4 linked regions of the Homo sapiens genome follow. The protein of the gene in region 1 interacts with the protein of each later gene in a pairwise test. Each region holds a gene or a part of one and is shown on either strand. Other genes may lie near its edges. The genes, in order: WIPF1, SEC24C, RER1 and ROBO4.

Evidence for each region.
Region 2: the proteins of WIPF1 (region 1) and SEC24C interact in binary tests that used the Homo sapiens proteins (3 or more experiments, as listed by UniProt).
Region 3: the proteins of WIPF1 (region 1) and RER1 interact in binary tests that used the Homo sapiens proteins (3 or more experiments, as listed by UniProt).
Region 4: the proteins of WIPF1 (region 1) and ROBO4 interact in a two-hybrid assay, tested with the Homo sapiens proteins (one study listed by IntAct).

The regions. Positions count from the first base shown.
Region 1 is NC_000002.12:174,580,798-174,587,821, forward strand, and holds part of WIPF1 (WAS/WASL-interacting protein family member 1), read right to left. Parts: intron 6,930-7,024; exon of another isoform or gene 6,676-6,929; intron 4,815-6,675; 5' UTR 4,777-4,814; coding exon 4,726-4,776; intron 643-4,725; coding exon 513-642; intron 1-512. UniProt on the Homo sapiens protein: Plays a role in the reorganization of the actin cytoskeleton. Contributes with NCK1 and GRB2 in the recruitment and activation of WASL.
Region 2 is NC_000010.11:73,754,348-73,761,371, forward strand, and holds part of SEC24C (protein transport protein Sec24C), read left to right. Parts: intron 1-5,274; coding exon 5,275-5,447; intron 5,448-5,670; coding exon 5,671-6,039; intron 6,040-6,365; coding exon 6,366-6,502; intron 6,503-7,024. UniProt on the Homo sapiens protein: Component of the coat protein complex II (COPII) which promotes the formation of transport vesicles from the endoplasmic reticulum (ER).
Region 3 is NC_000001.11:2,394,823-2,401,846, reverse strand, and holds part of RER1 (protein RER1), read right to left. Parts: intron 6,064-7,024; 5' UTR 6,057-6,063; coding exon 5,976-6,056; intron 4,732-5,975; coding exon 4,627-4,731; intron 2,433-4,626; coding exon 2,333-2,432; intron 991-2,332; coding exon 912-990; intron 1-911. UniProt on the Homo sapiens protein: Involved in the retrieval of endoplasmic reticulum membrane proteins from the early Golgi compartment.
Region 4 is NC_000011.10:124,894,853-124,902,076, forward strand, and holds the start of ROBO4 (roundabout homolog 4 isoform 1 precursor), read right to left. Parts: upstream 3,014-7,224; 5' UTR 2,944-3,013; coding exon 2,874-2,943; intron 2,410-2,873; coding exon 2,080-2,409; intron 1,819-2,079; coding exon 1,661-1,818; intron 1,467-1,660; coding exon 1,346-1,466; intron 1,061-1,345; coding exon 933-1,060; intron 834-932; coding exon 605-833; intron 342-604; coding exon 229-341; intron 1-228.

The sequences.
Region 1 (7,024 bases):
TGAATTACACTTTCCAGACAACAAAACATTTTACAGGCATTATCTCATTTGAAGCTCATGACAAACTTGTGAGGTCAATAGAACATGTATTATCATCTCCATTTTAAAATGAAGAAAACAAGGCTTGGAGATGGTACAGGATGGATGTGCCAGGTCTTGAACCCACAGCTTTTGATTCCAAGGCTAGGGCTCTTTCCATATTTTATGCTGCCTCCTCATCTGTGGTGCCAGGAGCAATGGGTTAATCTCCAGAAAGTGTTGTGAATAATGCAGAGAATTGCTGCTGTGTATGTCTTGGACAAAGAATTATTATACTGGCTTCTTGCAGCATTAGAGGGGAACCCAAGCCAAAGCTGCGGCCTACAGGGAGTGATACAGTCCCTTATTTTGCTAGCTTTGCAGCTGTTGTTAACCAAAAAATAAAATAAAATAAAAATTGAGTGGTGAGGGTAGGGTTGATTATTAGGCCATAAACTGTTCCTCTCCATGGTAGATAGCCTTTTTTTACTTACTGTCCAGTATTGGTGCACTTCTGTCATTGGTGACCGTCTTCTTTAGTTTCTTCCCTTTGCTGATATCAGAAAGGAGAGCATTTCTCCCAGCCTGCTCTGTCTTATTCAAGGTAGGCTTCTCTGTATTGGCCTGAAAGGGAGCCATACAAACAAGTAGTCATCTCTTGGGTTAAAATCATGCATTGTAACACTCGGCTGGGAAAGGTTGGGTACGGGAAGCTTGTTGTTAAGGTTCTTGGTGATAGGTTGTAAATTCTCGACAAGTTTTAGACCCCATATCTTTCTTTTTAAGATCCAGACGTTTGGAAGCAGATGCAGCAATAAATTATGTTCATTTTTAAGGGAGGAAGAGTCAGTCCTTGATTAAAGTCTCTGAAAATTCAGACCACAATCTGACTGAAACTAACAGGGCCAGGTTAGGGTGAGATGACTAGACACGAGAAAAGAATTTTAAGTCTGGGAGGATTCTGCAGGACATTACCAGACGTCATTCACTAGAGGGTACCCTGAAGAATAACTTCCTTTTCCCATCTTTTAGAACTACCCCAGTGCAAGGGAAAAACTGTCTCTAGCAAAAAGAGTCAGCTGTATGTTTTTTAAACCCACTAAAGTTCTAGAAAATAATTCCCTCTGTGTATATTGCCAAAGATGCTTTTTTTCTCTTTTTAAGTCAGATTTATTAAGGTGTAATTTACACATAGTGAAATCACCCTTTTTAGTTACAGCTCTATGAGTTTTGACAAACATATACAGTTGTGAAACCACCGTCACAATCAAGATATAGAATATTTTCATTACTTCAAAAGTTCCCTCATGTCCTGTTGGCATGAGGTGTTTCTGATGTTTAATTCTGATGAAAGCTTAGCTCATGGAAATTGTGGAATGGACAAAAATGCTGCTTTAACATGTCTGATTATTTTCTTATATTTCCAGAATTCCTAGGAAAGATCCCTACCTACTATGAAATTGGGATCTTGTTCCTTCAGGGAGTTGGGGACACTAAGAGACCAGCAAATGGACTTAGATGTAGGCACCTGCCTGTGTGCCTGTGTCTATCACACTTGGAAACTGGCTAGGTCTTGTCTGTCTCAGGGAGAGTCTGGCTGCCCCAAACCCACAGGTCCTTTCTAGGCTGGCCCCAGCCCTTCTGACAGGGATATGATTTCAGATTTGCCAGTTAGGGCCACAGGAGGAAAAGCTGGGGAAATGTATGGCTCAATACCTTACCCAGCCTTTAAAAAACAATTTTTTTTTAGAGACAGAGTCTCATTATGTTGCCTAGGCTGGAGTGCTGTGGCTATTCACAGGTGTGATCATCATGCAATACAGCCTCGAACTCTTGGGCTCAAGTGATCCTCCTGCCTCAGCCTCCTGAGTAGTTGGGATTACAGGCACGAGCTACTGCTCCTGGCCTAACTCAGCCTTTTATTAGCAGAGTTAGAGGCAAAGGAAGAACTCAGAAAAACCCTGAAGTAGGCTAACCAGAATTGCAGTGGTAAAGTTGGAAGCATCTTGAAATAACTAAATGATGAAGTATTACTTGCTTATGATAATAATAGTTAACATATACTCTGTGCCAGGCACTGTTTTCAGCACCTTATGTGTATTACTTCATTTAGCCCTTATCAACCCTGTGAGTTATTATTTCCATTTTACAGACAAGGAAACTGAGGTATAGGGAGTTTAAATCATTTGCCCCAGGCACCTAGTTAGTTGAGGAGGAGCTGGGATTCAAACCCTGGCAGTCAAGAGCCTTCCCTACAAGCTGATAGAAGGATAAATGTGGGCTCTAAAATGCCCCTCCCCATCCAGCCCCAACACACCGCTGAAGCATGCTTGTTAAAAGTTTCTCTGCTGTCCTTCCAGAAATGCTCTCTGCATACACAGTTTGCTTTTGCTAATGGGATTCTCCTCTATTGTTCTGCAACTTGTTTGTTTTCAACTTAACATACTTTGGATGTCCTGGAAAAGAGCTCTTAACATTACCTGCTGTCTTCATTTTAAGGATGAAAAAACTCTGAGGCCTAGAGAGGTTAAGTGATGTGTCACACTGGATCTCTTAACAGTTTTGGGTCAGCAACCTTCAGTAGCCTCCTGTTCTGCCTCAAAATTTATTTTGACAGCTGACCTCCCTGGGTGCTAACTTCTCTCATGTTCAGGGCCCTTAATTATGTTGTTTCACAAGGGCAGTGTTCTATGATGGCCACCAACCCACCTTTTCCCTTTCTTCATCTCTATATTCTATTTATCCAAAATCTTGCTTTGAATTAGGTAACAACGGATAGAAATGAGTTGATAAGATAAGCAAGGTTTCCCAAACTTCAAGCATTCTGGTATAAGATTCATGATTTTTGTCATCTTCTCATACCACCTGTGTTATTTATTTAATATTTTTTATTAAGTCAGTTCACTATAGCCCACACTTTTGGGGAAACATGGATAAATGAATCCTGCTATGTAAGCCAGATTGGAGGTTCTCAAACTTACCCATGTGAAGGACCAACTTTTTTTTTGTTTTTTGTTTTTTTGCGACAGAGTCTTGCTCTATCACCCAGGCTGGAGTGCAGTAGTGCAATCACAGCTCACTGCAGCCTTGACCTCCTGGGCTCAAACAATCCTCCCATCTCTGCCTCCAGAGTAGCTGGGACTATAAGCACGCACCGCCATGTCTGGCTGGCTAATTTTTAACATTTTTTTTGTAGATATGGGGGTCTCGCCATGTTGCCCAGGCTGGTCTCGAACTCCTGGGCTCAAGTTATCCTTCCAAAGTGCACGCCTGGCCAAGGACCAGTCTTTTGAAAAATATTTTCATCAGGAACTGACGCTTTTGTAAAATAACAATGAATTATTAGAAAAATGAATTAGTTTTTTAAAAAAGACACACAACATCCAATCTTAGAAACAGAAAACTACTGTCAAATTGCTAGAAATGCTTCTAAATGCTTACTTTCAACTTTTGTCCTCATCACTTTGGGGACTCTTAAAAAGCAGTTGGAAGGCCACACTCTGAGTAACAATAAGCTAATTAATAGGCAGTTCTTCTCACTAGGTTTCAACCTCAGATGAGTTATATAAATGTGTCTCATGGAAACCTGGGGCAAGAAACTTTCTCTCCAAGCCTCAGTTTCCCCATGTGAAAATGGTGAAAATGAAGGAACCATCAGTGTGAGGCTCCTCCTCAGTGAAGGCTTCACAAGCTGGAGAGGGCTTTGTAACAGAGCGTATCTTGGGGCCTTTCCATATGACCAAGTGGAGAGTTGCCAAATTCCTGAAGAGGGCACACTAACTTCCCCAAAGAGGTCTATCAAAGGAGCAGGATGAGCCGGGCACAGTGGCTCACGCCTGTAATCCCAGCACTTTGGGAGGCCGAGGTGGGTGGATCAACTGAGGTTAGGAGTTCAAGACAAGCCTGGCCAACATGGTGAAACCCCGTCCATACTAAAAATACAAAAATTAGCTGGGCATGGTGGTGCTTGCCTTTAGTCCCAGCTACTTGGGAGGCTGAGGCAGGAGAATCACTTGAACGGGAGGTGGAAGTTGCGGTGAGCTGAGATCGTGCCATTGCACTCCAGCCTGGGTGACAGAGCGAGACTCAAAAAAAAAAAAAAGACCAGGATGAATCCACTGAAGAAATTCTTTCAGGAAATAAACATCTAAATGCCTAAATGCAAGTATAGATTTAAAGGAGGATGTGAATGTGTATGGCAGAGGTGGTGGAGGGAGATATTTGTCAAAAACAGATTGGGAAGAAGAGGGGAAAAGGCAGAAAAAAAGAAAGGAGTGAGACCGGAAGACACTTTAATGGAATGCACTGCAGGCAGAGACCTGGGTTTCTAGACCGTCCAGCCCAGAAGTTAAAGGCCAGACATTGAGTTCATCTGAATGAAAACAGTGCACACTGGTCTCAGAACTGATCCTGCAAACCCTATCTTGGGCCAGCACATGTCCCTGCGCAGATGCGGCAGAAAACACCTCATCAGCCACATTCCACCCTTGTACTATCCATCACACGAGACCTTAAACAAACAAAACCCTTCGTGTTGTTTGTATTTGCTGGGTTTCAGGATTTGGCTTACCCTGGGCACTGGGAAAGCCTGTTGTATCACATGTGAGCCAGAATGCAAACACATTTAATACAAACACATGCACGCCAGGTTTTGGCTTCATTTGGCTTGCTTTATGCATAGAAAGTGTTTGGGGAGGAGACACTCACCAGTGCAAACGTCGGGGGCGGCGGGGGTGCTGGAGGGGGAGGGACAGGCATCTTGGGCAGTTATGCGTTCAACAGTCTTGCTGATAAATCTGGAAAAACAAGAATGCGATCATGTATTAGATGTAATCTTAGTAATACTGTCCTAATCTGTCTTCACTTTCCCACCAAAGTGACAGCTCCACCTAGCTCAACTCTTAGAAGAGATGGGCTTACCTTTACACCTCACTGCTAAAACATTACTGTTCTGGAAGGATCCCGGCAGAGGGGCTTCTGACCCGAGGTGCTTGGAGAGAATGGAGGCCACATCCAGTGCCTTACTCGGCTCCATTCCCCCACCCACTACAGTAGGCCATGACCGACCCAGGTGGGCCCAGTTAAGCAGGAAGGTCTCACACAACTGCTAGGATGTATCCTGGCCAAGTTTCACTGAAAACAAATTCACTTCAAGTGGCTTCTCCTCTTCGCTAATTTCCATGACAATCCTTTCATGCTCTCCCACCCCCTCTGGCTTTCTCCTCCCATTCTTCCTGACATTCGCCAAGTCTGTGTGTGCACTGCAGGAATATGAAAATGAATCTACTTCTAGTCCCGCCCTCAAAGTTCCTAGTCCTCCAGGGAGAGGGCATGGAGAATGTCAGGTGGAAAGCAGGGAGCAGCAGCTGAGGCGGGGTGGACGTGTGGGGGGTCAACCTTATGTTTGGAGCACTCAAAGACCAGCCATCCCTATCTCTGTGCTCCTTAGCATTTCCTCAGAGGATCTAAGCGAAAACAGAGCGGGCATGAGAAGTCAGACCTAGGACTCCCAGGCTGTTTACCAGAAATGCATTTCATTTAGAAGAGCCTGTCTTAGCTTTGTTTGGGTAAAAAATTATATATAAATAAAATAAAAAAGAAGAGCCTTTCTGCAGAGTGTGCTTGCTCTGAAAACAAAGGGAAGACCAGATTCCGTAGCTGGGTAGGAAAGTTTAGGGACCCCAGGTGGGTGAGGGGGCAGGGCGGAGAGGGCAGCCTGGCAAACACCAGGGCCAGGAGAGACGATGGCCAGGAAGTGCCTGGTGAGTTACACCAGCCAGGAGCCCTCTCCCCATTTCCTCTAATCCTTGCAGTCCTGTTCCTTCGCCTCACTAGAACCCCTGCTCCCTCTGCCCTGTCTAGGACAACGCCTCACCCACTGTTCTCATCCCTAAGCAATGCCAGCTTCTCCCACCCCATCCTTGCTACACAAACTGTGGTCCTGGATAGGCAGCGTGGGCACCACCCAGAAGCTGTTAGAAATGTCAACTCCCAGTCCCTTTTGCCCCCAGCTGAATTCGTTTCAGCATTTTAACAAGATCCCTGGGTGATTCATACGCACTAAAGCCCTATGTAGAGATCGAGCCTTAAGCCAGCGGGCAGTCTGGGTCACTGGCCACCTGAATAACATTATTTCTACAGGACATGTGTCCCAAATTTTAAACTGCAGAATTATATTTCTTTAAAAAATTTTTTTAAATTTTTTTTTGGAGATGAGGTCTTGCTCTGTCACACAGGCTGGAATGCAGTGGCATAATCATAGCTTACTGTTGCCTCAAATTCCTGGGCCTAAGCAATCCTCCTGCCTCACTCCTGAGTAGCTTAGCTAGGACTGCAGGCATATGCCACCACGCCTGGCTAATTTATTTTTATCTTTTATTTTTGTTGTGATGGGTCTTGCTATGTTGCCCAGGCTAGTTTTGAACTCCTGGCCTCATGCGATCCTCCTGCCTTAGCCTCCCATAGTGCTGGGATTACAGGTGTGAGCCACTGTGTCAGGCTTTTTAAACTCCCAATAGTCCCTTAATTGCAAAAAACAATTTCTTAGAATTTAAAATATTCATTTAGTTCAACCACTACAAGTTAATGTGGAAAACTGAAACCTAAACAAATACTTTCTATTGAGATAATGCTAAATGGCTTGCTTTCTGTGAACAGAAATGGACTGGAGAAGCTAAAAAAGACACTGCTGGACTTGTCACAGCCGCCGGGAAACAAGAATTAAGACAGTTCGGAAGAGTCCCATTCAAAGTGGGCGGTCTAGAAAATGAAAATTTTAAATTCCACAGCAGCAACAGCAGCTCTCATGTATGGAGAATCTGCTGGATCCAGGGCTCTATCCTTGCGTGGTCTCTGACTCCTAAGACAGCGGAAGCCAGCATCGCTGTGCTCATTTGATAGACTCAGAGAAATTAAATCACTCCCTAAAACACCCTGAAGCAATTCATTCAGTCATGTCCTTTTGCTTCCTGCTCTTCTGCTGGATAACACTGCCTCACTCACTCAC
Region 2 (7,024 bases), on another chromosome or scaffold:
GAGGTTGCAGTGAGCCAAGATTGTGCCACTGCACTCCATCCTGGGCGACAGAGTGAGACTTCGTCTCAGGAAAAAAAAAGTATATGGGAGGTTATATGCAAATATGATGCCGTATAACCCACATCCAATTCTATTGATTCCACCTTCAAGATGTATCCCAAATCTCACTACAGTCATTCCTCAGTATCCATGGGGGAATGGTTCCAGGACCTCCCCTGACCAACAGATACCAAAATCCACAAAGGCTCAAGTCCCTCATATAAACTCTATTCAAGTAGAGATGTTAGGTAGGCAGGTGCATATACAAATCTGCAGCTCAAGACTGATGCTAGGACTGGAGATAAAAATTTGGGAGTCCTCAGTCTATAGATATTTAAAGCCGTGGGACTAGATGAAATCATTTAAAAAGTGAGTATTGAGATTAAAGAATGGAATTGAGGACTGAGACTTGGAGCTTAGCAACATTTAAAAGTAAAGAGGAGCCGCCATTAAAAGACAATGAGGGGCCAGGTGCAGTGCCTCACTCCTGTAATCCCAGCACTTTGGGAGGCTGAGGCAGGCAGATTGCTTGAGCTCAGGAGTTCGAGACAAGCCTGGGCAACATGGTGAAACCCTGTCTCTACCAAAATACTAAAATTAGCCGGGTGTGGTGGCACATGCCTGTGGTCCCAGCTTCTTGGGAGGCTGAGGTGGGAGGATGGCTTGAAACCAAGAGGCGGAGGTTGCAGTGAGCCGAAATCGCACCGCTGCACTCCAACCTGAATGACAGAGTAAGACCCCATCTCAAACAAACAAAAAAAAAACAAAAGACAATGAGAAAGAGCAGTAGTGAGGTGGGAGATAAGCCGGGAGAGTGTGGTGTCCTGAAGTCAGGTGAAGAGAGTATTTCAAGAAGGTGAGAGAGTAATCAGTTGTGTCAGATGCTGCCAAATTGTAAGATGAAGATGGAGAATTGACCATTGAATTTGGCAAGGTTGGCGTCATTGGTAAAGGCAGTTTCAGTGTAGAGATAAAGAAAACTACCCAGTTGGAGTGAGTCAGAGTTTCAGGCCAGGCGCGGTGGCTCATGCCTGTAATTCCAGCACTTTGGGAGGCCGAGGCGGGTGGATTACAAGGTCAGGAGATCGAGACCATCCTGGCTAACACGGTGAAACCCCGTCTCTACTAAAAATACAAAAAATTAGCTGGGCGCGGTGGCAGGCTCCTATAGTCACAGCTACTTGGGGGGCTGAGGCAGGAGAATGGCGTGAACCCAGGAGGCAGAGCTTGCAGTGAGCCGAGATCTTGCCACTGCACTCCAGCCTGGGCGACAGACAGCGAGACTCCGTCTCAGGAAAAAAAAAAAGTTTCAACCGGGTGGTAGATTGACATAATCTGAAAACCCTCTGCTACCAAAGTCTAGAAAGGAGAGAGAAAATAGAAACAAAAAAAATTTTTAAGTGCAAAGTTAAGCTTGAAAGAAAATGTGAAATTCTTAAGTTTTAGAGACCAAGTGAGGACTGAAAATCTTTTTTTTTTTTTAAATACAGAGTCTTGCTCTGTCGCCCAGGCTGGAGTGCAGTGGCACGATCTCTGCTCACTGCAACCTCTACCTCCCAGGTTCAAGCGATTCCCCTGCCTCAGCCTCCCAAGTAGCTGGGACTACAGATGTGGGCCACCATGCCCGGCTAATTTTTGTATTTTTAGTAGAGATGAGGTTTCACCGTGTTGGCCAGGCTGGTCTCAAACTCCTCGCCTCAGGTGAACCGCCCACCTTGGCCTCCCAAAGTGGTGGGATTACAGGCATGGGCCACTGTGCCTGGCCATCAAGTGAGGACTGAAAATCAGAGTGGTAAATTGACTCTGGAGCTGCCTGTAGATTGGGTGGATTCATCATCTTGAGAAGCCAGGGCCTTAAATTTAAGCAGGTACTGGGGAAGGCAGATGAGTCCTTGGGCTTTCCTGAGAGTAGTTTTGGAACTGAGACATTGTTTATAAAGTCTGGACCTGGGCTGCACCTTCATTGAACAAGCTGACTAGGGGAAAAAAGTCTGCACGCTGGAAAGGGGAGATAAGGAGTGCTGTTTCTCTCAGGCTGGCTGTGGATGGGTGAAAAAAAAAGTTCTTGGGACTGCAAATGGACATGACATCTTTTTGGAATGATGAAAATGTTTTAAAATTTGATTCTGGTGATGGTTGCATAACTAAATTTACTAAAAATCATTGAATTGTTCACTTGAAGTGAATTTAATGGTATGGAAATTACATCTCAGTAATATTTTTTTTTTTTTGAGACAGAGTTTTGGTCTTATTGCCCAGGTTGGAGTGCAATAGCACGATCTCAGCTCACTGCAGCCTCTGCCTCCTGGGTTCAAGTGATTCTCCTGCCTCAGCCTCCCAAGTAGCTGGGATTCCAGGCATGACCACCATGCCAGGCTAATTTTTTGTATTTTTAGTAGAGACAGGGTTTCACCATGTTGGCCAGGCTGGTCTTGAACTGACCTCAAGTGATTCACCTGTGTTGGCCTCCCAAAGTTCTGGGATTACAGGTGTGAGTCACTGTTCCTGGCCAATTTTTTTTTTTTTTTTTTTTTTTTTTTTTGAGATGAAGTCTCGCTCTGTCACCCAGGCTGGAGTGAAGTGGTGTGACCTTGGCTCACTGCAACCTCCACCTCCCAGGTTCAAGTGAATCTCCTGTCTGAACCTCTTGAGTAGCTGGGATTACAGGTGTGCACTACCACGCCTGGGCTAATTTTTGTATTTTTTTAGTAGAGATGGAGTTTCACCATGTTGGTCAGGCTGGTCTTGAACTCCTGACCTCAAATGATCCATCTGTCTCGGCCTCCCAAAGTACTGGGATTACAGGCATGAGCCACTGCACCTGGCCTAATTTTTTTTTTTTTTAAATTAGAGGCCAGGTGCAGTGGCTCATGCCTGTAGTAATCTCAACACCTTGGGAGGCTGAGACAGGAGGATCACTTGAGGCCAGAAGTTTTAGACCAGCCTGGGCAACATAGGGAGATCCTGTCGCTATAAAAAAAAAAAAATAGCTGAGCATTGTTGGTGTGCCTGGGAAGCAGAGGTGGAGGCAGGAGGATTGCTAGAGCCCTGGAGGTTGAGGCTACAGTGAGCCATGATGGCTTCGCTGCACTGTGGCCTGGGTGCCAGAGTGAGACCCTGTCTCAAAAACTAAAAAAAAAAAAAAATCAATCTAGGGTGACACTGTCATTATTGGAGTACCTTCTGGAAACAAATGTAGAACAACCACACCTCAGTCCGGGCTGGAAGGGATTATCGGAGAAAGGCACTTTGATTAGAGTTGGGCCAGGCACAGTGCTCATGTTTGTAATCCCAGCACTTTGTGAAGCCGGGGTAGGAGTTCAAGACTATCCTGGGCAGCATAGCAAGACCCTGTCTCTACAAAAAATAAAAAAAATTAGCTAGGTGTGGTGGTGTGTGCCTGTGGTCTCAGATACTTGGGAGGGGAGGCTTAGGGGGAGGATTGCTTGAGCCCAGGAGGTCAAGGCTGCAGTGAGCCACAGATAGTGAGTGCCATTGTACTCCAGCCTGGGTGACAGAGCGAGACCCTGTCTCAAAAAAAAAAAAAAAAAAAAAAAAAAAACGTAAGGCTGGGCACGGTGGCTCACGCCTGTAATCCCAGCACTTTGGGAGGTTGAGGCGGGCGAATCACGAGGTCAGGAGTTCCGAGACCAGCCCGGCCAACATAGTGAAACCCCGTCTCTACTAAAAATACAAAAATTAGCCAGGCATGATGGTGGGCACCTGTAGTCCCAGCTACTCGGGAGGCTAAGGCAGGAGAATTGCTTGAACCCAGGAGGTGGAGGTTGTGATGGGCCAAGATCGCACCACTGCACTCCAGCCTGGGCGACAGAGTGAGACTCTGTCTCAAAAGAAAAGAAAAGAAAAAAAAAAGTAGAGACAGAGTATAGACCTATTCTTTTGTAATGTTTAGCTAAAAGGGGAGCAAAAGTTTGAGGGGGCTGTGAGGTAATTTGGTTGGATTTTTAAAAAGTTTTTTGAGATATAATTCATATACTGTGCAATTCGTCTGTTTAAAGTGTTTTTGTATATTTAGTGGTTTTTAATATATTGACAGATATGTGCTGTCACAATTTAGTATATTGACAGATATCACTACAGTCAGTTTTAGAACATTTTCATCATCTGAAGAAGAAATACTGCATTCTTTAACTACCCCTGTTTAGCTATTCCCCCATTCCCCTATTCTTCCAACCTTAAGCAACTCCTGATCTACTTTCTGTCTCTAAAGATTTCCCTATTCTGGACTTTTCATTAGAATAGAATCATATACTATGTGATATTTTATAACTGACTTCTTTAATTTAGCATAATATTTTCAAAGTTCAACTATGTTGTAGTGTATATTAGTACTCCATTCCTTTTTGTGGTTAAGTGGTTTTTCATTGTGTAGCTACATGCCACATTTTGTTTATCCATTCTTCTGCTGATAGACATTTGGGATGTTTCCACTATAGTTGGTTTTTGTGTGTGTGTGTGTGTGTGTGAGATGTTTGTATGTTTTTGTGCTGATGGGAATAATCAGAGAGGGAGACACTGAATGGAAAGTATATTGGAAAGACACTGTGGTAGACTGAGGCGGGCAGATTCGTTGAGCTCAGGAGTTTGAGACCAGCCTAGGCAACATGGCGAGACTCCGTATCTATAAAAAATGCGAAAACTAGCCACGCATGGTGGCGTGTGACTTTCGTTTCAGCTACTTGAGAGGCTGAGGTGGGAAGATCAGCTGAGCCTGGAAAGTTGAGGCTGCAATGAGCTGTGATCACACCACTGCACTTCAGCCTGGGTGGCAGAGTGAGACCCTGTCTCAAAAAAAAAAAAAAGCTGGACAATCAATCTGCATTTGTTTGATTTCATATTTATTAAGGTTCATGCATGCTTATGCGTGCCTTCCCTTTCAGTGCTTTCAGGGCTTCAGATTACAAAACTGAAGAGGTTTGTCAAAGAATTGAAGCAGAGGAAGCAGTAATTTAGTTAGCAGAGTAAATAGTACTTGACCTGAAGGTGCTTGGTTTATGTTTGTGGAGTGAGCTTAATGGAAAACAAGATTTGCCATGAATAATCAGGAATATAATTTACCCACAAATATACAAAAGTATGAAGCCATAAAAGAACTCAGGGTGTGAGAGTAAGATGTCACAAAACAATGTAGCTTCCTGTATGATGTGACACTTCTGTAGACTTCAAAGGGTGTCCTGGCCCCACTAGTCACCTCTGCTTGCTTTCTTTTCACAGGCTGCCTGGGTCTCAGCCATTTGGGTCCCCATTGGCCCCTGTGGGCAACCAGCCACCTGTGCTTCAGCCCTATGGCCCTCCCCCGACAAGTGCACAGGTGGCTACGCAGCTGTCTGGAATGCAGATCAGCGGTGCTGTGGCCCCAGCCCCTCCTTCTTCAGGGCTGGGCTTTGGTGAGTGGCTGTGAACACAGGAATGTTACTGTCCCCTGTTCAGAGGCATCAGACTCTGGGGTTATACCTGAATCTCTTTTATTTCCCTTGTATTTCCTGTGCCTCTGAGCCTCAGAAGATGGGACAGTCATATTTGCCCCTCTTGTGTGGAAAGGGAAGTGATATACCGAACAAGGAGGCAGAATGACTGGGCTTTTGACTCTACCTTTATTCTACTTCTCAGGCCCACCAACATCGCTGGCTTCAGCCTCAGGAAGTTTCCCTAACTCTGGTCTGTATGGCTCCTATCCTCAGGGCCAGGCTCCTCCCCTTAGCCAGGCCCAAGGTCATCCTGGGATCCAGACTCCCCAGCGATCTGCCCCATCACAGGCCTCCAGCTTCACACCCCCAGCTTCAGGGGGTCCTCGGCTGCCTTCGATGACTGGTCCACTCCTGCCTGGACAGAGTTTTGGAGGGCCCTCAGTGAGCCAGCCCAACCATGTGTCTTCACCTCCTCAAGCTCTGCCCCCTGGCACCCAGATGACTGGGCCCCTGGGACCACTGCCACCTATGCACTCCCCGCAGCAGCCAGGCTATCAGCCCCAACAAAATGGTGAGTCTTTCCCAAGGTCTGTCTTAGAAGCTAGAGGCTTCAGCTACTCAGGTGGTTTTTGATGTTTTTTATTTGTTTGTTTTTAGTATTACTTGCTAAGTGGTGAATTAGATGGGTAGCTTCAGGGTATTATTCCTAGGATATGGGGTTTGTAAGACATTATTTTTTCTTGTCGTTCTGATAACATGGTATTTTTCTGAATGTCTTTGCCAGGCATTAGTGTGCCTCATAATTCTATGTTTTTAGGAGTCTAGTCATTTTCCTGAGGCCTTAAGAAGAGATAGGGATGGGATTTTGAGTTCATCAACCTTGTGTCCTTGTCTCAGGTTCCTTCGGACCAGCCCGGGGCCCTCAGTCTAATTATGGAGGCCCCTACCCAGCAGCACCCACCTTTGGCAGTCAGCCTGGGCCTCCTCAGCCACTGCCTCCTAAGCGCCTGGACCCTGATGCCATCCCAAGCCCTGTAAGTAGAAACTTTCATGGTCCTGAGGAAGGGTTTGTGTCTGCCAGATAGGCAGGTCAATCTAGATGAAATGTTTGCCTAGCATTTTCTGATAATTTTCCCTTTTTGTTCATCTTCTTGGAGAACTTACATATAATTTGATTCTGAACTGGAACTTGAGGTTCTAGGAGTCTTTTGGGGGGCTGTTTTACTCTATAGCTGGGCAGAGAAGGAAGGGAAACCAAGAGTGAGCAGCAGCACCAGTAGATGTCTGAGGGCTGCACTCTGTCACTACTGTACATACATAGTATAGTAGCCTTTGTCCTTCTGTGGAGCAGTGACTGGGTCTTGTCCCCTTAGATCTAGAAGGATGGCATTCTTCCTAATGGGTAGAGCAGGTGGGAATTCTCTGATGTTAGATGTTAAGAGAAGGAAAGCCTCACTGGTTTCTCTGCTCTTACTTGGACAGTTTTAGGAGGAAGTCCCCAGTACTTTTGTTTGGTAGGCTTCTGCTGTGTGGATGGGGAAGAGTGAACGACAGTT
Region 3 (7,024 bases), on another chromosome or scaffold:
TCACTGTGGCATGGCCACCAGTGCTCCCTCCCGTCCCAGCACATGGCCAACAGATGCCACGGCCCTGGAGGCTCAGCTCTCCCTTCCTAGTCCAAGCTTCTGGTGGCTTCCAGGGCCCCTGATCTTTCTGTACCACACTCCATCTGCGGCTGCAAAGTCAAGGCGTGGAGCCCCACGAGCTCAGCAGGCTCCTTCAGTTTACTGATCTAACAGACTTGGGTTCCTCCTGTGCTCCCAGAGTGGGGTATGAGGGACAAGACAAACGGATGCACACGCTCCCGTCCCTCTGACGGCTGCACCACCCACCTCTGCCTACCCGTGCAGACACGGACACCTCGGCTCAAACCCCTCTCAAAAATGACTCCAGGAGAAGGCTAGTCCCTCTGCCAGCCAAAAGGAGCCACAAGGCTGGGGATGGGAGAGAGGAAGGAGGAAGGAGGGAGGAGGAGGGAGGAGGAGGGAGGAGGAGGGAGGAAGGAGGGAGGAGGAGGGAGGAAGGAGGGAGAAGGAGGGAGGAGGAGGCAGGAAGGAGGGAGGAGGCGGCAGGAAGGAGGGAGGAAGGAGGAGGGAGGAGGGAGGGTGGAGGAGGGAGGAAGGAGGGAGGAAGGAGGGAGGAAGGGAGGAGGAGGGAGGAGGAGGGAGGACAGAGGGCCTGCCCTCCCCAGGCCACAACCACAGAAGCCGGTGCGCACTCCATCCCAGACTCAACCTCCAGGGCACTGGTGCTGACTTGAAACCAAGAGAATGCGGCAAGGTAGTGAGTGGCCTTCTACAGAGAGCCCCTGCGATTCCCCGTGCCCAGCCCAGCACAGCAGTCATCTTTCAGGTGACTTGAACAAAAATCAGTGTAGTCTCAGTCTCAGCCACCCTTGAGCACAATTCTCTTCAAATACCGTGAAGAATTAGCTCACCAAAATTTAAACTCTGGGAGCCTTCGAATGAAGGGGCGGAATTCCTCGTTCTGTTTGGTGGGTAGCGAAGGACCGTCATCTGTAAGGCAGAGCAACCATCAGGGAGGGCACCTCTTTTCATTCCCATCACAGTTCTACCTTTTCCCCTCAAGGCTTTGGACTAGCAGGCCTCACAAATCTAAACCGAGATTCATGTCATTTAACCAGAGAAAACGAGAAAACGGGGGTCTGTGGTCAACTGACACATCCAATTCACTGCTTTCAGAAGGTGCTATCAGAATGTTTTTAGACTTCCACACGTTTTCAATGCACGAAGAATTCAACCACATATAAACATCCAGGAACACGTCAGCTGCACCACGTAAAGGCACAGAAGAAAACAAAGGCAAATTAACATAAAAAGCAAGCGGCAGAGAACAGGGCGGGGCCGAGGATGCGCTGACCGTGGAACCCGGGCGCCAGGCCTGTCCCACCAGCAGCTGTGCCAAGCCCACTCTCACCCCGCCTCCCCCACTGGGATGGGTGCCGCTCCCCATTTACAGATGGGAAAACTGAGGCCTACAGGAAAGGGGCTCTTTGTTATTTTCTAGTCTCCTCCAAACAGCAACAACAGAGAGGGGCTGTGTTCCCAGCAATCTTTTCATCACATATCCTACACAGAAGACTCACAGGCTTCTGGCCACACAGTGAGAGCATACCCTACTCCCTGACAGCAGGTTCCCCCAGAACGAGGAGGGTCCTGGCAGGGAGCTGCGTGTGGGTTTTCCCTCAATGGCCACCACGTCCTGGAATGCAGTTGTTTGTTCCTCGCCTGGGGCTGGCCAGTCAGGCATGAACTCAGGGCCCCTACCTGGCCCAGGCAGGCCCAGGAGCTGCGTAAGTCTTCCAATAGTGGAGCACGAAGCACCAGGAACACTTCAGCTCACAGCTCCTCAGAAACCAGAGAAGGCCGCCCAAAGCCTGACCCGACCCGATGCTGGCATTAGAGTCCCGGCGGTCTCTGTGCACCACAGTGAGCTGCCTGTGGAACCCTCTGGCTACGGGAAAAGGTAACCTCGTCATGGCTGCCTCCGCTGATTCTGAGAGGGACCACTGACTGGGGTGGGACGGGGGCTGGAGTCGGACTGTCCACCTCAGACCCCTACTGTCTGTGGTGCCATGTGACCTCGAACACGTTACCTAACCCTGTATGCCTCAGTTTCCTCATCTGCAAAGTGGGAAAACAGAATGAACACCCACTTCGTGGCTGTCAGGAGGGTTTGAAGAGTCATTCTACAAACATATCCTGATCACCCAACATTACAAGTACATTTCAACCCCAAGAGAAGAGTCTCGGGTGTTTCCAGAGAACACTGGGCAATCCCATCAGAAAAGAAAGGCCCAACCTGCCCACACAGCCCAGTGCACAGCCGCTACCCTACCTGAGTCTTCCATTAAGGAAGGATCCACTTTGGGAGAAAGAAAAGCTATGAAAAGATTTAGATGGTAGATCCCCAAGGCATAGGTCACAATGTACCAACCCTGAAAGAGAAGGAAAGAGAGTCAGTGGTGCACTCTGACCGTCCATCAGCCTGAGCCAGTTCACGTTTGCACTCCGGTTCACTCTCAACTTTGTTAACTGATCTAACTTTGTTTTAACACAAAACTTACTCATAGCAAGGACAAGGAAATACAGTGAAATCCCATGGTAACAATTTATCTCAAATTATACTCTGTGGGAACAGAGACAAAGCGGACAAGCAAGGGCCCAAATGAGCAAAGCTCTTCAAGGGTCCAGTTAGACACATGTGATCCCTGAAGCCACAGACGCCCCACAAGGAGCGCAGCAGAAAAGGAGGCTTTTCTCAAGAAGCACATGCTCAAGCTACACCACAGGCTCGGGTGGCCCGGGCACCTGAGCGATGCTGGCCCAGAGCCCCACCCAGGAGCAGCTTCATCAGAAACAGAAGACAGACTCTCAACTGTGACTGGAGGCGTGCTGGCTGATGTTCCTCCAACAGACAATTCACATTGCCAAAAACACTCTGCCAGGAGGGTTAAACCTTTGCCCAGAAGAAATCCACAACTGGGAAATCCAGAAAAGTGTGCTTATGCCAAGCCTTCCTCAAGAGATGAAAAGTGGGGAGAATTTTGGCAAGATGCCTGAGTGCAGCACACTTATTTGCAACTAATTCATTTTTTAAAATGATTAAGCATATCCCGTTAAAAGCCAGAACCGCATTCTCAATTTCAAAAGCCTTAAATTTCTGTCGGGTGTGGTGGCTCACGCCTGCAATCCCAGCACTTTGGGAGGCCAAGGCGGGTGGATCACCTGAGGTCAGGAGTTCAAGACCAGCCTGGCCAACATGGTGAAACCTCGTCTCTACTAAAAATACAAAAATTAGCCAGGCATGGTGGCACATGCCTGTGATCCCAGCTGCTCGGGAAGCTGAAGTAAGAGAATCACTTGAACCCAGGAGGTGGAGGTTGCAGTGAGCCAAGATCAGGCCACTGCACTCCAGCCTGGGCGACAGAGTGAGACCCCATCTCAAAACAATAAATAAAAATATAAATGCTTTAACTTTCTTATACAAACAAGAAGTCTTTCTGCCTAAAAGCTTTTCCAGTCAGACGGCTGAACGCCAGATGTGAGGGCTAACTGATGTCTGTGTGTCCATCCCTGGCTGAACGCCGGATGTGAGGGCTAACTGATGTCTGTGTGTCCATCCTCGGCTGAACGCCGGATGTGAGGGCTAACTGATGTCTGTGTGTCCATCCTCGGCTGCAGGGCCACACCTGAAGAGACGCCAAATGAGGCACGAGCTTGGTTTCGAACGCAATAAAACTGACCTGTGGGTGCTGCACTCTTCCCGCCCCCTGCTCCTGCCTGAAGTCCCTGATTCAAGATTTCTAGGTCATTCTTTCCATCAGAGAATGGACCCAGTTCCAATTTAAAAACAAAAATAAATAAATAAATTAAGGTGTGTGCTTTAAACAAGGAAGTATCTTCTACAGTCCCCAGAGGAGAAAATAGCCCAGACAAGGCTTTCAACATGCCCTGCTCTGCACATAAGATTATGTAACCTCCTCTAAAGACCGACGAAGAATTCCCATCTTACAGGTTTGCTCCTAGAAACCCCGTGTTTACCAGCAAGTAAAGGAGCACCCAGGTGAAGTCTGAGACGACATCACCTGACCTAGGGGTGCCCGAAAACACACGAAGGAAACCCTCAAGACCCCCTTCGGTCACTGTCTCTCTTACTTGACTCGGCGTCTCAACCTGCACTGTGCTTTGGCCTCACACAAGGGAGAGCTCAGGAAAAGCTACATAAACCCTTTGGACGCCGAGTCATTCATGACACCCAAGGCATGGACTCTTCACCCAAGGAATGAGGCAGCCACAGAGCGCAACCTTGTCCTGAGCATCATGCAGCAGGGTCGGAGGGACACCAGCGGCTCCACTGTCCAGGCCTGGACGTGCCCAGGGCAGGGCCAGGCTGGGCTCAGGACGGCCTGGGTATACTGAGAAGCCTGGCGAGGCGACTCCGGGTGAATCATAAACAACCCTGTTCGTTAAAGACAGTCACTGAGATCTTTCTGACATTTGGCGTTTAGCTGAAAATTGATTACTAGAGACCACTTCCTGCAAGACAGACTGGATCAACAACATCCCCACAAACATCACGCCCAGGTAACGTGGACAGAGCCAAGTCTCGTCACTTCAGCCCACACCTACCTGCAGCAGGTAAACTCGAATCATGTAGACAAAGCTCAGGCCCAGTGTCACGACCCATCGCACAGCCGTGTAGGGTGTGGACTTGTCTAGCCAGGACTGATAAATCTAGAAAGACAAGAGTCCAAAAGCATGAAGCAGGTCCTGTAACTTCTGTACTGACCCTGCCACAAAATGTACCTTCTGCTAGGGTTGGCTTTCAATTTTTAAAACAGCTAAAAGAGTGAGTTAAAATAGCAAGAGATCATCTATGTATCAGCACAAAGAAGTGACTACAATTAATCCAAAGTTTATTTTCAATAATTCCTGAAGCAGGTTCATCTCTTAAGCAAGACTATTACAAAACAATCTCCTAGGAGACTGTGACATTGTGCTGGCCCCAAGGGATCACTATGGGGAAGACCCAGCCTCACCCCAAAGAGAGGACTGTGCATCTCAAAGTCCCCACCCTACAGCACAGCCCTTATCGTCACATCTCAAGTCAGCTCCCCCATCTGCAGCAGCCAGCAGCCAGCCTTGCCCCGCTCCCAGGCCCACTGGCCACAGCCTGAGCCCCAGCAGCCACACCCACATGTGTGTGCGTCCAGGCGGCTGTGGACATGACCGAAGGAGCCCTTAGTTTTATGTATTTATTTTTACAAATATACATATGTATGGTTTTTTATTTTAATTTAGAAATTTAATTTTCAAATTGTGAGAAATTTCCAAATTCACAAAAGTAAAAAGATTATAGAAGCTTACATATGCCTGTCACCCAACTTCATTAATCGCCAATCGCTTTTCATATGTGATTTAATTAAGGTGATGAATTTTTATTTGAGCCGGATCCTCAGCACCTGGAACTGCCGGTGACCCAAGCTTTTCCTGACAGAGGTTCGGACTCCAGCGTTCAAAGGCAGCTCTAGGTCCCTCACTCACCAAGCAATGCACACGCAGCCCACACAAGAGCCTCTCACCCTCAAGGACAGAACCGCCGAGCTGACACGGGGCAGGTGGGGCTACCAGCACCGGGGACGTGGGTGGCTGGGAGAGGGACAGCAAGAGCAGAACGGCAGCCACGGCCGCATCTGTCCTGCCTGGGAGCTGAGACTGGGTTTTATATTTTTAAAGCTTGGTAAAAGGAAAACAGAAACAGAAAACGCATATGTTTGATAGACCACGTGTGGCCCCAGAGCCCGATCTCTCCACAGCTGGCCCTTCACAGTGAAGAGAACGCTGTCTTCAGGAAGTTTGAGCCTGAGGCGAAGTAACTTCTCCATCAGGAACACCAGCAAACAGATCCTTCCCGAAAATGCTGGGAGTCCCGTTTCTTTTTCAAATATTTATACTCATCTACTAAAAAACCCACCAACCTGTCCAAGTCTTGTGAAAAATCTGTACACCACCGAAGGTTTCCCATGGACGGATTCTCCCACACTGTCCCCTTCAGACATTCTGTAACTGGGAGAAAAACACAAAATACTTTTCAGTAAAAAGCATTCACGGGTGTGAAATCCTGGCCCTATTTTCACCAACACTGTCAAGTAGGTTTCTTCCACATTCAGTATTTTGTCCATATACCATTTGTGTTTTTACCATGAATTGTTCGGGAAAAAGTAGCAGGTACACAGGCTTCCCTGGAGAGGAAGGGCAGCGTGAGACGCATGGGCCCAGGAGCACAGGCCGCATTTTCATTCCCACACTGGCACCTCAGTCACCTGCGTGGGCGGGACTGTCCACCCCACTGGCCCCAGGAGCAGCCTTGCTGGCCATGGGGTCCACTGGCTGGTCCATGGCACGTGGCACTGCATGTCCTCCCTCCAAGGACCGCACCCTCTGTGGATCCCTCAGGGTTCCCCCGCCCAGGCACCTTGTCTGCTCCACGCCCTGTCCTGGGTCTCTGGTCTGGCAGGAGCAGGAGGGATCCTGTCCTCTCAGGGCCAGGTCCTCCACCCCATGAACAGGAAAATGTTATCTACAACTCTCAGGTAGTCCATCCATCTGCGTCCCAGTTTCTTATCTGGCAAGCGGAGGTAACGTATCTGCTCCTATTTCAACACTGCTGTGATGCCATGAGGAATTCACCTGAGAACCCAGGTGCCAGAGGTCACATTGTTCACCCACTTAATTCCCAGATGCTCAAGTGAAGGGCATCATGACCCCCATTTCACCAAGTCTCAAACAGTGGAAGCCACGTGTCCAAGGTCCTGCCACAGCCCTGCTTCTGGGCAGGCCAAGCCAAGCCTGACTGCCACCTGGCTCCTCAGCTGAGCACGCCGCCACCCCACTCCTGAGAGGAGACGGCGTCAGGACCTGCCGCTCTTCGGTAAAGCACAGCTCAGTACCCAGGGCCTGCCGGTTGTCATTCCTACTTTAAAGATGAGAGGCCTCCTGGCCCCTGAGCTAGAGAAGACGCCAGGGG
Region 4 (7,224 bases), on another chromosome or scaffold:
AAATTGGGGATAATACCCCAGGGTGGACTGTGAGGTAAAACGGGATCATGGAGGTCAAGTGCTTGGCAGGGTCTGGAAGCCAGTGGGTCCTTGCTCAGCAAAAGCAGGTTTCCTTTGCTTCTCTGCCCAGGTACCTTTCTCAGTGCCCAGAGCAAGGGTATGCAGAACTCCAGAGAAAAGAGATGTCCTGGCAGCAGTAGGAAGGGCTATGACAGCTAGTGGGGGTACCTGGTAGCCACGGATGATGCCATTGTGGTTTTCAGCAGGTGGTGGGACCCAGCTCACAAAGACAGTGCCATTGCCAGGCTTTAGAGTCACTTCCTGAGGTGGGGCACTGGGCACTGGAGGGGTGGAAGAGAGACTATGAGGGGCTCTGAGGGAGAGGACTCTAGGGAAAGGAGCTGGGCTGGGGGACACAGCGTCAGAACCCTACTGAAGAGACAAGAAGCCTCTTGAAGCTCTGCTGGCCTGGCCAGGGCAGAAGGGAGTCCCAGGGTAGGACCCATAATCTCCCCTCAAGACTGAAGCAGAACAGTCCAGGGGCCCCCAAATAAGAAGGAGCCAGAGGGGATATTGTTGGCTTCTGAAGGGATCAGGCCCTGACCTTTTTCCGGCAGCCTCAGGAGCAGCACGTTGCTGTCAGGGCCTCGAGCCCGGCCAGAGGATGGTCTCACTTTGAACTCGTAGTCTTGGCCCCAGTGGAGGCCTCCAAGCTCTGCGCTCTGCCAGCCGGCCAGCAGCTCCTCTGCCCACGGAGCTCCCTGGCCTCCCGGGGCAGTCTGGGTCCTGAACAAGGCCGTGTAAGATTGGGCAGGCGCAGCAGGGCCACTGACCTGGGAAGGAGTTTCGAGGAAGGGCGGGGGGTCAGAGAGCTCAGGAACGCCCTTTCTTGAGCTCTGGATCGGCTTTTACCCTTAGCACCTGGTCCTCACCTTCCAGCTGAGCCACACCGCCGGTCTAGGCTTGGGGCCCTCTGCAGGATCCGGGTTCAGCAGTGTCACATTTTCCAGCTGAATTCGCACAGCCAGAAGCTCCACAGGCTCCGTGTAGTCCTGGGGCTCTGTGGGGAGGATAGGGCTGGGCTGGGGCTTATAGGCCAGAGTGACAGAACTGAGGCGTGGAACATCCCTCAGCCAGGGAGGAACCCCAGGGAACCCAAACTCCCAGAGTCTCCAGGTCTTGAGCATTCCGATTTCTACTCTAGCAGGGGGGAACCTCCCGCTACGTGAGACCCCCAGCACTTTGACCCTGACCCCACATACCTTAACCCCAGCCCAAACCAGAATACACCACCCCAACTGGAGCCTGCAGCCTGGCTCTGATTGTAGCCCACCCCTGCCCTTACCCTGGATGGAAACCCGGGCTGCGCGGCTCTCCCTATGTCCTGCGCTGTTGGTGGCCACACACATGTAGGTCCCTTCGTCACTCTTCTCTGCTCTTGCCATCAGCAGGGACCCCCCGGACACCTGTCAGGGCCAGGTTCACTGTGAAGTCTCCTATGTGGGGAGGGGCTCTGAGCTGGGGGGAAGTTTGAGGCCCCCTGCTCTCCCCTCCTCAAATTCTACCGGAGGATGCGGGGCTGGACGGCAGGTCAGTCCATCAGGGTGTACCCAGGTCTGCCCAGGCCAGGATGAAGTGTGGGGGAGGGGGCCACACTTACTGTGTGCCTTCCGGGCTGGAGGGCCAGGGGTTTCCCATCTTTCCACCATGAGACTGTGGGCTCTGGGTGGCCCCAGGGCGGCCCACATTCCAGAGTAAACTGCTCACCCACCACAGCCACCATGTCCCGAGGCTGGATCTGGAAATCCTCCCGGAGGACTGTGGGGAGGATGGAAGGTGACACGGAGCAGGGCCCAGGCCTCTTCTCTCTCCCTTATCACTCTTGCCCCCTTCTGCTTTGCCCACCTTCCTGGCCTCCCATTTAGGGCCAGCCCCGCCCCAGCTTGCCCTCCCAAGCCTTCCAGCCCAGGCCTCTGCTCACAGGTATCCCACTGACCTCTCAGATGTTCCCTTGAACATTCAGCTCAGATGTCTCCACCCAGGTTTGCCCCACCCTGAAGCTCCCCTCCCAGGCCTCACCAGCCACAGACAGCCGAGCGCCTCTGCTGACTGCCGTGCCAAGCCGGTTGCTGGCCTCACATGTGTAGACACCCAGGTCTGTGGACAGGGCCTGGCCATCGTGGGCATGTCCCCGGGCAGGGGGCTGTAGCAGCAGAAGGGTCCCATCAGGCAGGAGGTGGTGTGGGTCTGGGGGCACCATGCTCAGGGGCTGCCCATTCAGCAACCAGCGGATGGTGGGAGGTGGCTGGCCTGAGGCTTGGCAGCTCATCCTGGCAGGGCCAGGGCCCTGGAACAGCTGGTCCTGGGGGTGGACTAGGATCTGGGGCGGGGAGTCCTGAGCCATGCCTCCTGGGAGGGAAAGGGAGCAGAGCCCAGTCTGATCACCAGCAACACCCCAAATTCCTGGCCCACCCCTCATCTGTCTTCTCTTGTGTGCGAGTTTGCCAGAAAACCTGTAATCTGAACTACTAAAGGTTGCCTCCCAAAGAACAAGCCAGCTAGGAGGAGAGAGGGCCAGCATGCACAGCATCCAGGCCAGGGCTTGCATAGCATGTTCGCTCTCTCTCTCTCTCTCTCTCTCTTACTTTCTCTCTTTCTTTCTTTCTCTCTCAGTCTCTCTTTCCTTCTTTCTCTCTCTGGTGTGTGCGCACATGCACAAACACACATACACTTACACACACTCATCATCATCATCCTCATCCTCATCTCTGGTCCCCCCACTGCAAAAGGGAAGCAGGCAGTCAGCAGGCCCCTTCTGCCCTGAGCAGGCCTTGGATGGAGGAGCATGGGCCAGGAGAGGGAGAGCAACTCACCCATGATGAGCAGGAGCAGCAGAGGCAGGGAACCCCTGCCCCCCAGGAGGCTGTCTCCTCCAGAGCCCATGGCTACTCTCAGCCCTATGTCCTTGTCCCGAGCACTTTGTCCTGCTGCTCTGAGCTCACAGTGAAGAGGGAAGGAGGGGCGGGGTGGGCCGGTGGTGGTTGTTTGTGACCGAGACTCTGCCCCAGGAGGGAAGCGGCTTTGAGGAAACCGATGCTTCCTGCCTGGCCCTCAGTGCCTTGGAGAACTGGGAGGAGACCAGAGGCGAGAAACTCTCTGACCTCGACCATTTAGCTATAACCCCCGACCCTAACTTCAGCGCTAAGCTTTATCTCATGATCTACTCGGGGATTTCTTACAGGGTATCCTTACACTAACCAAAACTCCGATCAGAGCCTTAATCCTCTATTTAAATCTTATCCCTGGATCCCAATCCTTATCCCTTTGACACCTGCTAGAGAAGAGTGAAAACCCCAGGAGTCTCAGGACACAGCAAGAAGCTGAAGACAGAGGGCAGTGGGGCTGCAGGCTGGGGAGGCTGAGTGAAGTGGAGCAGGGGTGGATTGTAACACCCTCATCCATTTCCCCAGTGCCAGATGGACCAGGAGGTGGCGTAGGGTGGGAGACAGGAAGGACTCAGCATCTGGGACAAGCTGGGAGATTACCACAGGGTGTGTCCATATTCAGCTCAGAGATGGATGAAATAAGCTTCTGTGGAGAACTTGGGCAAGTCAGTTTCCTTCTCTGTAAAATGGAAATAATAATAGTAGTTCCTACCTTGAGGGATAAAGTAATGATGAAACACATAAAGCATAAAACCACTGGCATCCAGTGCCTGACTCATTATGAGTGATCCGTAAAGCTGAGCCAACATTGTGTATTTCTTTTTAGGCCCATCCCATCACTGAAACTATTGGAGGATCCTCGGCAGGAGTATTTTTCAGGCCCTGGAAAGGTGGTTGGAGTAAAAGACCTTTTAAGAGTCTTTCCAGTCCCAAGAGCCTGTGTCCATATATGTAGCAGACAGGCCTTGCAGGTTTTGAGCCTACAATGTCAGCTCTTGCCCGCTGCCTCCTTTCCCCCACAACCTAGACAGAGGCCACACTCCCCTGTCAGATCCCAGCTCATGTTTACTGGCCTCTTCCTTCCAAATCTGGAATCTCAGCCATTTCCTGGAGCTGTTCCCGGAAGGCCAAGGCCAGGCTCTGGGGCTCAGCGGAAGAGTATCCAGCCTTTGTTCCCAATTGTTCCTGGCCAGCTTCTCTGCAGGGCCCCTAACCCAGCTGACGCCCTCCCTTCCTCCCCCTTCCCATCCTGGCTTCGGTGCCAGCCACAGACTAACAGCCTGCCAAGTAGAAGTCTCCTTCACTCCTCCTCTTTCCTCTCAAACTCAGACCAATACTGACAAAGACAGAACTGGAGCAAGGAAACACCATGGTCTCTACAAACTGGGGAGTTTGCAGAGGCTAAAGAATAGGCAGAGTGAAAGTCATGGAGTGGCAGAGCTGGAAGGATAGGAATTGGGGCCAGAGAACAGAATGTCACTACCCTTGGCACCTCTAATTCTGAAATCCCAAATTCTGTTCTCTGGCCCCAATTCCTACCCCAAATTCTGTGGGTGTATCCTTACACTAACCATAACTCCAATCAGAGCCTTAATCCTCTATTTAAATCTTATCCCTGGATCCCAATCCTTATCCCTTTACCACCTGCTAGAGAGGAATGAAAACCCCGGGAGTCTCAGGACACAGCAAGAAGCTGAGGACAGAGGGCAGTGGGGCTGCAGGCTGGAGAGGCTGAGTGAAGTGGAGCAGGGGTGGATTGTAACGCCCTGGTCCATTTCCCCAGGGGCAGATGGACCACTAGGTGGAGTAGGGTGGGAGACAAGAAGGACTCAGAGCGTCTGGGATAAGCTGGGAGATTCCCACAGGATGTGTCCATATTCAGCTCAGAGATGGATGAAATCAGCTTCTGTGGAGACCTTGGGCAAATCTGTAAAATGGAAATAGTAATAGTAGTTCTCTGTAAAATGGAAATAGTAATAGTAGTTCCTACCTTGAGGGATAAAGTAATGATGAAATACATAAAGCATAAAACCACTGGCATCCAGTGCCTGATGCATTATGAGTGATCCGTAAAGCTGAGCTAACGTGTATTTATTGTGGGGCAGGCAGAATGGAGTCGAGTTTATGGGGTCAAGGATCTGTGGGGCCAGAGTGATGAAGGGGAGATTCATGTGACACTGAAGTCAGCTGAGGATGAGACAGGAAAGGATGTGGTGGGATTGGAGGATTTACTGCACAGGAGGCCAATTTGGGATTTCCCAGGTACAAAGCCTCCAAGACTGTCTGACTCCCTGACTATCAGCTTATCAAGAATGTCACTGTCAGCAGTCTGCTTTTAGTCTCCTCTGCTTCTACATTGGTTTTGGGGACACTAATTAAGTGCTCGCTAATGTTTTAATGCCAACTGGATTTTACTCCAGTCTCCACAATCCAGAAAGACGCTAGGTTTCCCTCAGGGGAAAATAAGGCAAATCTCAAAGGAATTCCAATCCATCACTAGCCCCGTCCTCAGCAGGGTGAGAAAGGAGAGGTGAAACGGTCTGTGTGCACCGCAGGGACAGAGCCCCAGAGGCTCCTGCAGCCCGAGGAATGTCCCCTGCCCCACAGTCACATGCCCCGTGCCTGGAGATCACCTTCAGCAGAGCCTCACCCTACTCCCAGGTTTTGGAGAGCTAGGTGCTAACACCTGAAGGTGATTGGAGGGGCAGATTCCTCAGTTGTTCCTGCAGGACACTAGAACTTTTTCTCCAGGGCACTCAGAGTGACATGCGGTGGTGGCCGAGGGGACTTCCCAACAGTAGGGTATGTCTGGATGGCTCCCAGAGACTGCAGGGCTCATTTCCAGCAACCTGGTGCATCCGCATCCTCATTGTCTCATTTCCACAAACTAAGGAAGAGCCGACTGCATGAGTCATGGGGATGATGTGGCTTGGTGGGAGCCGCCCCAATTGCTATTTCAGAGAAGCTCTGTTCTGGGGCTCTGGTGATGTGCTGTCCTGGTGACCAGTTTAAGCAGTGCCTTCCTTCATCCCTAGTTCTGGTGTTTTGTGTTTTCTAACTCCCCCTTCGTTGCTTGTAAGAGGGAGAAGAGAGGGGAAGCACCAGGTGCCCTTCTGAGCAAGCCTCCAGAGGAAATTTCTCTTCAATGTCTGGCTCCTGGCTTCTTTGGCTTTCTGCTCTGTGATCTCTGAAGATGCAATCTGAGACTCCTGCTGGCCAAGCTGGTGGAGAAAAAGGGATAAACTCAGGTGGGATTTGGAGTCAGTTACACTGGGGTTGAGATCCTGCTTCCACTTCTTATTGGCAGAGAAATCTTGAGTAAGTCACATAACCTCTCTGAGTCCCACTGCCCTCATTTGTAAAATGTCTGCATGAGGTTTACAGACAATGGACATGAAAGTTCTCTGAAAACACTAGATATGTGTTAGTTGTCCTTTGAGTGTTCTGGGATCAGCATGCCTGACCAACACAGCCATAGCCAGTCCCAGCTACCCCTTGATACTCTTTTTGGATTTGAGACTCACACTTTTTGCCTTCTTGTTTTTTCCCCTTTTTTGCTTGAGTCTGCTTGGTCTCAATCTATAAATTCTCAAGTTTGTTCCAAGATGCCAACAGCTGGAGGGAAATTGAGTCAAGAGAGAAGACAGTAAAAACCTCCTCTTAGCTGGCTGGAAAACTCACCCTAAGGCCACTTCACTGGACAGCATCTATTCCCTAGTTTCTGGTCCCATCAACATCATGGGTGATTTTAGGTGCTTGGAATCTAAAATCACATCGAATACTCTCAACCCTACATTTTCTTAACTTTCTCGACACCAATGACTATGGATCACACCTAGCTTAAACATTGCCCAGTTGGAGATTTCAAGGGCTGCTGACATCAATATTTAACCATTTGCTCACATGTCCAGGAAGAAGGGGAGATCTGTTACTGTGCTTTGTGTTCACCCTGTCAATGCCCTCCAGTCAAAGACCATCAGGAACATACCTATTGTTGAACAAGTTGATTTACTTCTTGCAGCTTGAGAGAGTGCATGCCATGGAGAACTATGGAATGTCTAAGTAAGAGAGATGTTAGAAAGAACCTATTCTAGGATTTGGGCTTTGATTGGGTGATTTCGTGGAGGGTCCAGGGAAGTGAGGCTTCACTCAAAATTGGGTGCTGTTGGGAAGAAAGGACATGCAATGATTCTTTGCAGAGGAGTGTCTTTGTAGTATATCAAGTGGGTCTTTTTCTTGAATATGTAGTATATCAAGTGGTTCTTTTTCTATTATAAAC